Linked DNA regions of Homo sapiens: all the other regions are linked to region 3. Evidence: fine-mapped expression QTL. A gene starts in region 3. Each other region holds a variant in brackets. All regions are shown on one strand. Distances are between the middles of the regions.

Region 1 (2,773 bases), 130 kb after region 3:
CTTTAAACGAAACCGTCACATCTGTTCCGCCTTCTAATTACAAATGCAAAAGGAATACAATTCACCAATGCATTATAAAAAAGTAAAACACAAGTGATTTAAATGCATATGTATGTTCCTTAGTCAATGCAGCATGCAACCTGCTATGTTTTTTACATGTTCTGGGCACAAATCAGATGGAAAACCTGTTCTCTGCTGAAATGTGATTTCTTCTCCCTGGATAAGTTTGGTACTGTATGGAAGCTGTGGTTTGCATAAATGTTATATAATGCACACAACACACCTAACAAGTGTTTCTAGTGAAACTCTTCCTGGGGACTGATATTTGATGATCAATATGATGCATCACAGCACTTTGATGCTGGCTGAGTACTAAAACATATTAATCTAGAGTACAGGAGAGACTCTCACTGATACATAAGAAATAATTTCTTTCTCTCTCTTCATAAAAGGGGAAAACATGAGAAATATTTCCATAGTGCTAGCCCCAATCGTCCTTGGTCTACAAGGCTGACTAAATAGCATTTACTGCTACCAAGTGACTGTTTAAAAAATTGTGTGCACTTTTCAGAGAATAGGGAAGTGGTATAATAGACATTGGTAAATGATGATATTATTTCTTTCTCAGAGATAATTTGCTCCTATTAAAAATAATCTCATTTAAAGAAAAGTTTTAAATGATGGAGATATTTTTCTGGACCTCTGAGTGGGTCAGGAAGGCAAGAATTTGATTAGAGTTAGAGATCAGGGAAGCAAAATTCCATGGTTAAATAAATGAGGACAAAGCAGCACAATCCAAGTGCCATGACATCAACGACAATCAAACTAACAATTCAACCTTCAGGCTAGAAAAATGTTAAGTTATTCTATCTTTTCCTGAATCCAGGTTGAATTCATCCAGGTTCCTTTGCCTGCTTTGTACCAAGACTGGGAGTGTGATGGGACGTGGTTGAATTCAGTTCTCTCTCTACTGAAAAGCATCTCAAAAGAGGAGGCCATCCTTATCCATGGGTGTACCCCATGACTGAGAACAGAACTTGACAAATATTAGCCAGTCAGGAAGTGTTTTTGAATGAATAAATGAATCTGAAAGTATAAGCAGGTAATTGACTGGTCCTGACAAAATTCTGCTTCCAAAGAGCCACTTTATGTCAAAATACTAAAGCAAGTGTTAATATAGTTTTCAATATGAGAGTAATTTTCCCCCTTAGTTTATTGTGCTGTATCTCCCACAAAATCTTTTA[G/ATCTTTTAG]TATCTCCCTCCTAAAATTGTTGGGAGGATACGATGAGATAATACAAGTAAAGCACTTAAAACAGTTCCTGGCCCATTGTTTCAAAATTCACTGAACACACACAAATACACCCCCACATACACACACACACACACACACACACACACACATGCATGTGTGTGTGTGTAATTGAGAGGCAATAGGCAAACATTTCACTTACTGTGCTTGGGAAATCTTAACTATATGTTTTTGATTTTCACCATGATGGAATATCTATTAAGTGCTAAGGATGCAGGGAATAAAAGAATTGGGACTCAGATCTTGGACTCCTGACTCCTGTGCTACGGATCTCTCCTGTCCACCAGAACCCACTGAACGTTTTTCTTTTCACATCTGCTTTGGTACCAGATGAACCAAAAGAGGCAGGTTATTGATCCTCCTCTTCAGACTCAGTGAACTCATCTGTAGATTAGCTGAAGGAACTAGTGGCTTATAGGGGTCTTTAGGCATGAATATTGCGGTTTGTAGGGTTTTACATAAGCAGTAATTAATTTTACAGTACTTCAGAAATCTGAGATATGAATATATTATTACCTATAAAAGATGAGAATTTCATGGGAGCTATGATGGAATGACTACTACTATTACTAGACAGACTTCAGGGATATTCCTGATTCTAGCAGTTTCAGGTAGTTTACTGTATCTGATTTTTTTTCAAAAATTGGGAAAACAAATGCAGACAACTAACAGTAATATTGGACATTCATGAATTTTACAAACGAACAACTATCTTTTATGCATCTATCATATGGAAACTTTCTTCTGTGTGAATAGAAAGAGGCACTAGAATTTTCACAGGAAGGTTATAATAAGACATTGACAGAATTAAGTTCATCCCCAGATAGCAGCATGCATCGGGTAAACTAGATTCTAACTAGTTATATGTGCTTCACAGACAGACTTTCCACGATGTTGTGGAAAATGACAGTGCTTTGAGGCAAATATGTGTAATGTGATAGGATTAGGTAAGTTTTCAATAAAACTGTGTATGTATACACAAATTAATACTAATGTTATGGAAACATCATCAGATACATATGCCCACCAAATTCATGACAGTGATCACCTTTTGGGCACAAATGGTCAGAGAGAAAATGTAATTGTTCAGATAAAATTTAAAATCTCTATGAAATGTGGATTCTGAAGGAAATATTACTGAAGTTTACACTTTTAGTATGGGGAGTGAGTATTACTAATAATAGGTAACCTTAATAGAACATTTACTATATGTCTGGCAATATTCTAAGCCAGTTATTCTCACCCTTAATATAAGCCATGGTTATTTTGTACACTTTTATCTATGACCCAAATAACTGACCCAAAGCCTGGTCAATTTCTGTATTTTTGGTGGTTTCTTTTATTTATTTATTTATTTATTTATTTATTTATTTATTTATTTGAGACAGGGTTTCACTTTGTTGTCCAGGCTGGAGGGCAGTGGTATGATCTTCGCTCACTGCAGCCTCAACCTCACAGACTTAAGCCATCC
Region 2 (2,773 bases), 31 kb after region 3:
CCAATTTCAAGCTACCAGTGTAACGCCACCACATGTGGTATTGGGAAGAGACGCACAGGTCAGATCCAATGTCCCACTGTATGTAGTGGTATCACTCCCATGATAACATCTGTCCTTCCAAAACAATCCCCACTACTCGCTGGGACTTTTTTGACCCTGGTTGAACCCGCAAAAACTCAAAGACACCTCAAGTGGATTGATCTTTCACCCTGTTGAAAATTAGTCAGCTTCTTGCTGACACACTTTGAAACTTACTTGCTTAATACCATTCCCACTGAAAGGAAACATAATCATTTAAACGAGTATTTAGGTGAGAATATGGATAAATGTCTAAGAGAATGGTCCATAGCAAACTCAGTTCAGAAACCTACTGAAATGACACAAAACAGGAGGGAAAAAAATCCCTCTCTGCTTCTGAAAAGCTGGAGACAAATCTGGACTCTATTCCACTATTTTCCCAGAGCTAGAAAGAAAGTAACTAGTTCATAAATTCCATCAGGAGCTTGGGGATTTTTGATGTAATGAGTTTTACAGTTTCAGAGGAGAATGCTTTGCTAATAATTATGTAACAGTAATTAAATCTGAAAAAGGCTGTACTCTAACTATGTTGATTTATTGCAGCTCCTACAAAGTACTCCTCGAGCGTGCATTGGAGTGTGGGCTGCCTCCCTCCAGTTTTCTTTAAATTCTCACAGAGCACTGGGTCACAGATGGTCTGAGCTGCTATATTTTCCCTATTAAATTCCTAATAATCTTTTTCTGAGGCTGAGTCATGGAAGCCTGGGGATTTCTCATTTTAATTAGAAGGTTTAAGGAGCTAACTCTGTTTGAAATTTTCTCCTAGGAGGGATGGGTGCAGGTGATCCCATTCAGAAGAATGACACAGTACCGGGGCCAGGACCACATTTCCATATTAGATTGCAGCTTGTTTGGCTCGACTCCTATTTCTGAGGTTGATGATGCATTGTCTGAATTTGAAGAATAAAGTTCAGAAAACAGGGTTATTCGGAGATTATTCTTTTTGGGGACATTTTTGGCATTTGCTTCCCATTTCTACTTTGCATATAGAGAAGTGATTCAGGAATGTGAATTATTTATTATCCCAAAAGAAGTTTAAATCATATTGATTTGAGCCATAGTCACCAGTGAACAGATTTGGGGACCATTTGTCCTTCTTTATCCCTATTGTTTTCTTCCTTTGGCTCACTCTGACTTTATTTTTAAATATCTCAAATTCTGGGACAGCCTCATATTAAATATGATCTTCAGTTTTACTAGCAGAAGAATGTAAAAATGTACATGAACAGACAGAACACGATATTTAGAGTAATACCTATAATTTGTTGGGTAATCAGAGAGCAGCCTGCAGGAGGAACCATGGGGCTGGGATAAAATTATCTTTTAGAGTGTACCAATGAGTTTGATCATTTGCAGGAAACCTGTTATGTAAAATGGAGTGTATGGTGCTAGGCACAGTTCTCTTGATATTATAACGTACAAAAAAGAAAATGCTTCTAATAGGGCAGCTGCTCAAGTTTCGCCTCCCCCAGTCACAGAGCTGGTTTCTCTGCTTTTGTAAGATAATGAGTATCTCATGCTTTGAATGTGGCACAATCCAGAGAAGAAGTCAAACTGAACTGCTGCTACCTTTGTAGCCCCCCGTAGTTTTAACAGAAGCAC[G/A]TGCTTCAGAGCTGGCAGCAACTGCATTTTTATAAATCCAAAAAGTATAAGCAACATGGATGCATCATTTAAAAAATCTATTTTGTAAATGTAGGATGCTGGCTTTATAGTTAATTGTACCACAGGAAGATTTTTCCCCCTTTCACATGCTTTCTCTCTGTATTCTAAAATTCTCTGGCCCCTTCGGTTTCAGCAAATTGAGTCATTTCAAGGTTTGAGAAGTATCCTCATTTGGGTATTACTAATCTTCAATGATTATTTTCATGACTTCATATTGTTCATACATTTCTCAGAAAAGATTTTAGTCTTTACCGTCGCAATTTAAAATATAAGCATAAAATATTTATATTTTAAATTCCCTATATATGGAATAAAAATACATAAATATATATATACATCCCACTGTTAGGCTGTGTGACGTTTGCCATGTGTATAATGGAAATTAAATTGAGAAGGAATGTAATAGCTTCCACACTAAATTCTGCATCACATCAGAAGGTTGAAAAAGTAGAGACACGTGCAGCTTAAGAATGTTATACTAAAACCAATTTTAGTATAAAAAAAATTTTTTTAAGGTATTTAAGGCTTTTCAATCTGTAAGCCCAAGCTGATGTTTCTCGAATGTACTGGCTACAGCCATATGTTTAGTGGTTTCATTCGTGAATGTGTGGACAAGTGGCTGAGGGCTGCCAGACTGCCGCTGTGTGAGCAGGCTGGCCTGTGTGATGGGTGTGGATGATACCATGATGGCATGGAAAGCCACCCACACCCCACCATTGTGTGTGGATCCAACCAGGTTCACTCCTAAAGGCCAGATTAAGGGAAGAGGGAGCAACCTTTTTACACCTCGTTCACAAAATGGCTGGCTAGGAGAGTCAATCCTGTAGGAAATGGCCAAGTGAAAATGTATGTGGGTGTAGGGACCTAGAAAAAAATCCCAACTTGTATAGGTTTATTCAAGTTCTTAGATGAAAAACAAAAGCTTTGTCTGAAACTTCCGAATCTCCTTGTACCAGGCGTCATCAAGTTAGAGAACATTCAGTCAGGGGAACAGTTAAGGGCACTATGGCTGCGGCCAGGTTCTTGAAGGAGT
Region 3 (2,773 bases):
GGAGAAGAGAAAACAGGAGGAAGGTGGAGTTTGTCTCTGCCTCCACAGTTCGTATTATCTATAAGGCTTTGCCAGCTTTGCTTAACTGTTTCCACCCTGCTTTTGTTAAGAAGAAACCAAAAGTGTGGAGCGGGGAAAAAAGATAAATCTGAAATACACCTGACAGGGAAAAACAACTGGACACTGATACAAGAACAAGAAGATATTTAAATTGATGTTGGTCTAGAGAAAAATGTGAGGACAAGATTTTTAAGAGAAAGAAAAAAATCTGAAAGTCAAAAAAAAAGAAAAAAAAACAAAAACAGGAAAGCTAATCTTTGATTAAAATACTCAGCAGAATGTCAGGGAGAGGAAGACAAACACCTAAGTGATAATTTTTATGTTTATTGTGTCTGAAATGAAATGAGAGGGAACAAGCAAGTTAACGCTGGGAAGAGATAAGGGACAATAAAAGAGTGAAGTTAGTGACTTTCTGCAGAGGACAAAGTATGTAGTTTGAAATCCTTAACAACGGACTTGCAGTGTCTCTGCAAAAGTTGGTGAAAGATACCAGCAAGTGTAGGAAGGGGAGTATTTGAGGATGTCTTTCACAGACCCCAGATGGAGAAGCTGTTCTTTTATTCCAAATGCCTAAGAAGCACAGAAGTCTTACATGTTAATAAGAGAACACAGAGACACACACTCATAAGTTACACGCTGTGAAACAAAACAAGCAAAGGAGACCTTTTTTGACCCCTGTTCACTTACACAAATCTTAGTTTGGTTAAACGTCTTAAGACCAGTTTCCAGCTCCTTTTCACGGCTTTCTTTCCCTGGGTACCCAGGTGCACAAATGGGATGGTGATCTTTACAAAACAACATCATCAACAACAAAAAAAACCTCTTGCTCACACAAAAGCCCACCTTGTAAATGAATGGAATATTAACGATCACCTAATACTTGCACCTTTGGCAGGGCGAAACTGAACACTAACACAGCTATTTCTACAGATTGCCAGTGAAACCGAAGCAGTTCGAGGAGAAATGCACCTACTGTACGTGAAATGCTGGTGCAGATTTTTTTCCTATCAGTCTAACCTTCTGTGTTGATGCATGAAGGCTGGTACCCACTTACAGGGATGCCAGATGATCAGTGCAGAATGAAGGTCCCAAGAGAGAGGATCACATGGCTCTCTCTGCCCTGTGACGTCACTAGCAGATGGCATGGGTACCAGCTCTGGCAGTTGGCATCAATGTCACTTTTTAGAGATCAATGAGATAGTGCAGATATACACAGATCTAGAGACTCCAGGAGACGATGCGACACTCAGCCTGAAAAGATTTGGAAGACCCAAAATGAAAACTGATTATTGAATGAAATTAAAACCTAAGGTAATATAAATAAAGATATACTTCAATTGATGCTGGCTTTGCATGCAAGTATTTAAAGATACAGTGTCACTGTCTTATAGTATTTATATGCTCTTTGCCATCTATAACTTATCATATTTCATTCTTATGATGTAATTATCACATACTTTCACTGCTATTATGTAACACTGCAAGTATGTGGACATTACTAAGAGTTTGTGTATGTGTTCGTGTGTATATGTGTGTGTTGAGGGGGCTGGAGATTGTTAAATTGAAAAGTCTCTGCTTTAATGTGCCTATTTGTTTGAAGACTTTAGATGAAAATACTTGCTGCTTCACCAGACAAAAACCAAAATGCATTTGAAACACAAATTATTTTCCCCTTTCATTTGGGATTCTGAACACACGTGCACAATTGCAGTCAGAATCCTTGGACCGTTCCTGTCAGATATTAGCTAGAGGGAGACTTCTATGGCTCGTAGAACAAAAACACTACGAGAGTGGTTTTTGTCCAGGATGATTTGAACAGCAGTAAACAGACAATTCTATTTGGAAAAAATTTAAATGTAAATAAAATCAGTCTCTATTTTTTTTAATTAAAAGAAATTGCTAGTGATTTTTATGTTTTAAATTTATTTATAGAGTTTATTCCAAATTAGCCTAATCCCCTTTTCTTTTTGAAGCCTGGGAAAATAGTGCCCTTTTACATAATTCTTTACTGATCAGAAAAAATCAGTTGAAAAATTGACTCTGATTATAATCTTTTCTTTAAATTTGTATATTCCCACACCCACTTATCTAAATTCACAGTTGTGTGATACAGCAAATAAAGTTAAGGTTTTGTTTGTTTGTTTGTTTGTTTTAAAAAAAGAACACAAATTTGTCAGCTAATGGAGAGATAGTCCATTTTAAAAACTGGTTTATCTTCTCATTTTGTGCTCAGGGGAATTGGAATTAATGAAATTCTGCATTGCAATTTCATGTTTTGCATTTGCTTGAATTCCACAATCTTTTTTGGGGGTATTAAAATCCAGTTTAAAGGCAAAGAGAAATGTAGATGGTAATGATATCACAATAATTATATGTTTCATTTTTATTTTCTTTTGATAATTTGCTCATATAAATAATCCTATTGAATGCATCAATGTCTTCATAATTACTTATCTTCACAAACTCAAAATTATATTTAATGTTAAAAAATCAGGCCCAGAATCAGTCTTTTTCACGTGTTTTTGTAATCTTATGATTAAATAATTAAATATGTTTTAAGTGTATAAACTTTAAAAATGAAAACTCTTTAAATATTGTGCTGGCATTTTTTCAGGTAATTTAAGATTAGAGAACCATGTTAACACTACCGTTTGATGAGTCTGTTGTAATGCCAGAATCCCAGATGTGCAGAAAGTTTTCTAGAGAATGCGAG

What was found. PIP is the estimated chance that this variant, and not a neighbour inherited with it, causes the effect. A credible set is the group of variants that fine-mapping cannot tell apart.
Region 1: its variant is the best candidate, but not a certain one, in a credible set for the expression of NEUROD6 in cerebellum (GTEx, PIP 0.90).
Region 2: its variant is the best candidate, but not a certain one, in a credible set for the expression of NEUROD6 in cerebellar hemisphere (GTEx, PIP 0.89).

Annotation. Positions count from the first base shown.
Region 1 is chr7:31,211,367-31,214,139 of GRCh38, reverse strand. No RefSeq gene overlaps it. Among named protein-coding and RNA genes, the nearest start is that of NEUROD6, 130 kb to the left of the region's middle. The variant G/ATCTTTTAG (reference allele first, on the strand shown) is at 1,245.
Region 2 is chr7:31,308,459-31,311,231 of GRCh38, reverse strand. No RefSeq gene overlaps it. Among named protein-coding and RNA genes, the nearest start is that of NEUROD6, 31 kb to the left of the region's middle. The variant G/A (reference allele first, on the strand shown) is at 1,681.
Region 3 is chr7:31,339,191-31,341,963 of GRCh38, reverse strand. NEUROD6 (neuronal differentiation 6) reads left to right here and starts at 1,238. Exons shown (of 2, transcript NM_022728.4): 1 at 1,238-1,371; 2 at 2,675-2,773. The coding sequence starts at 2,696.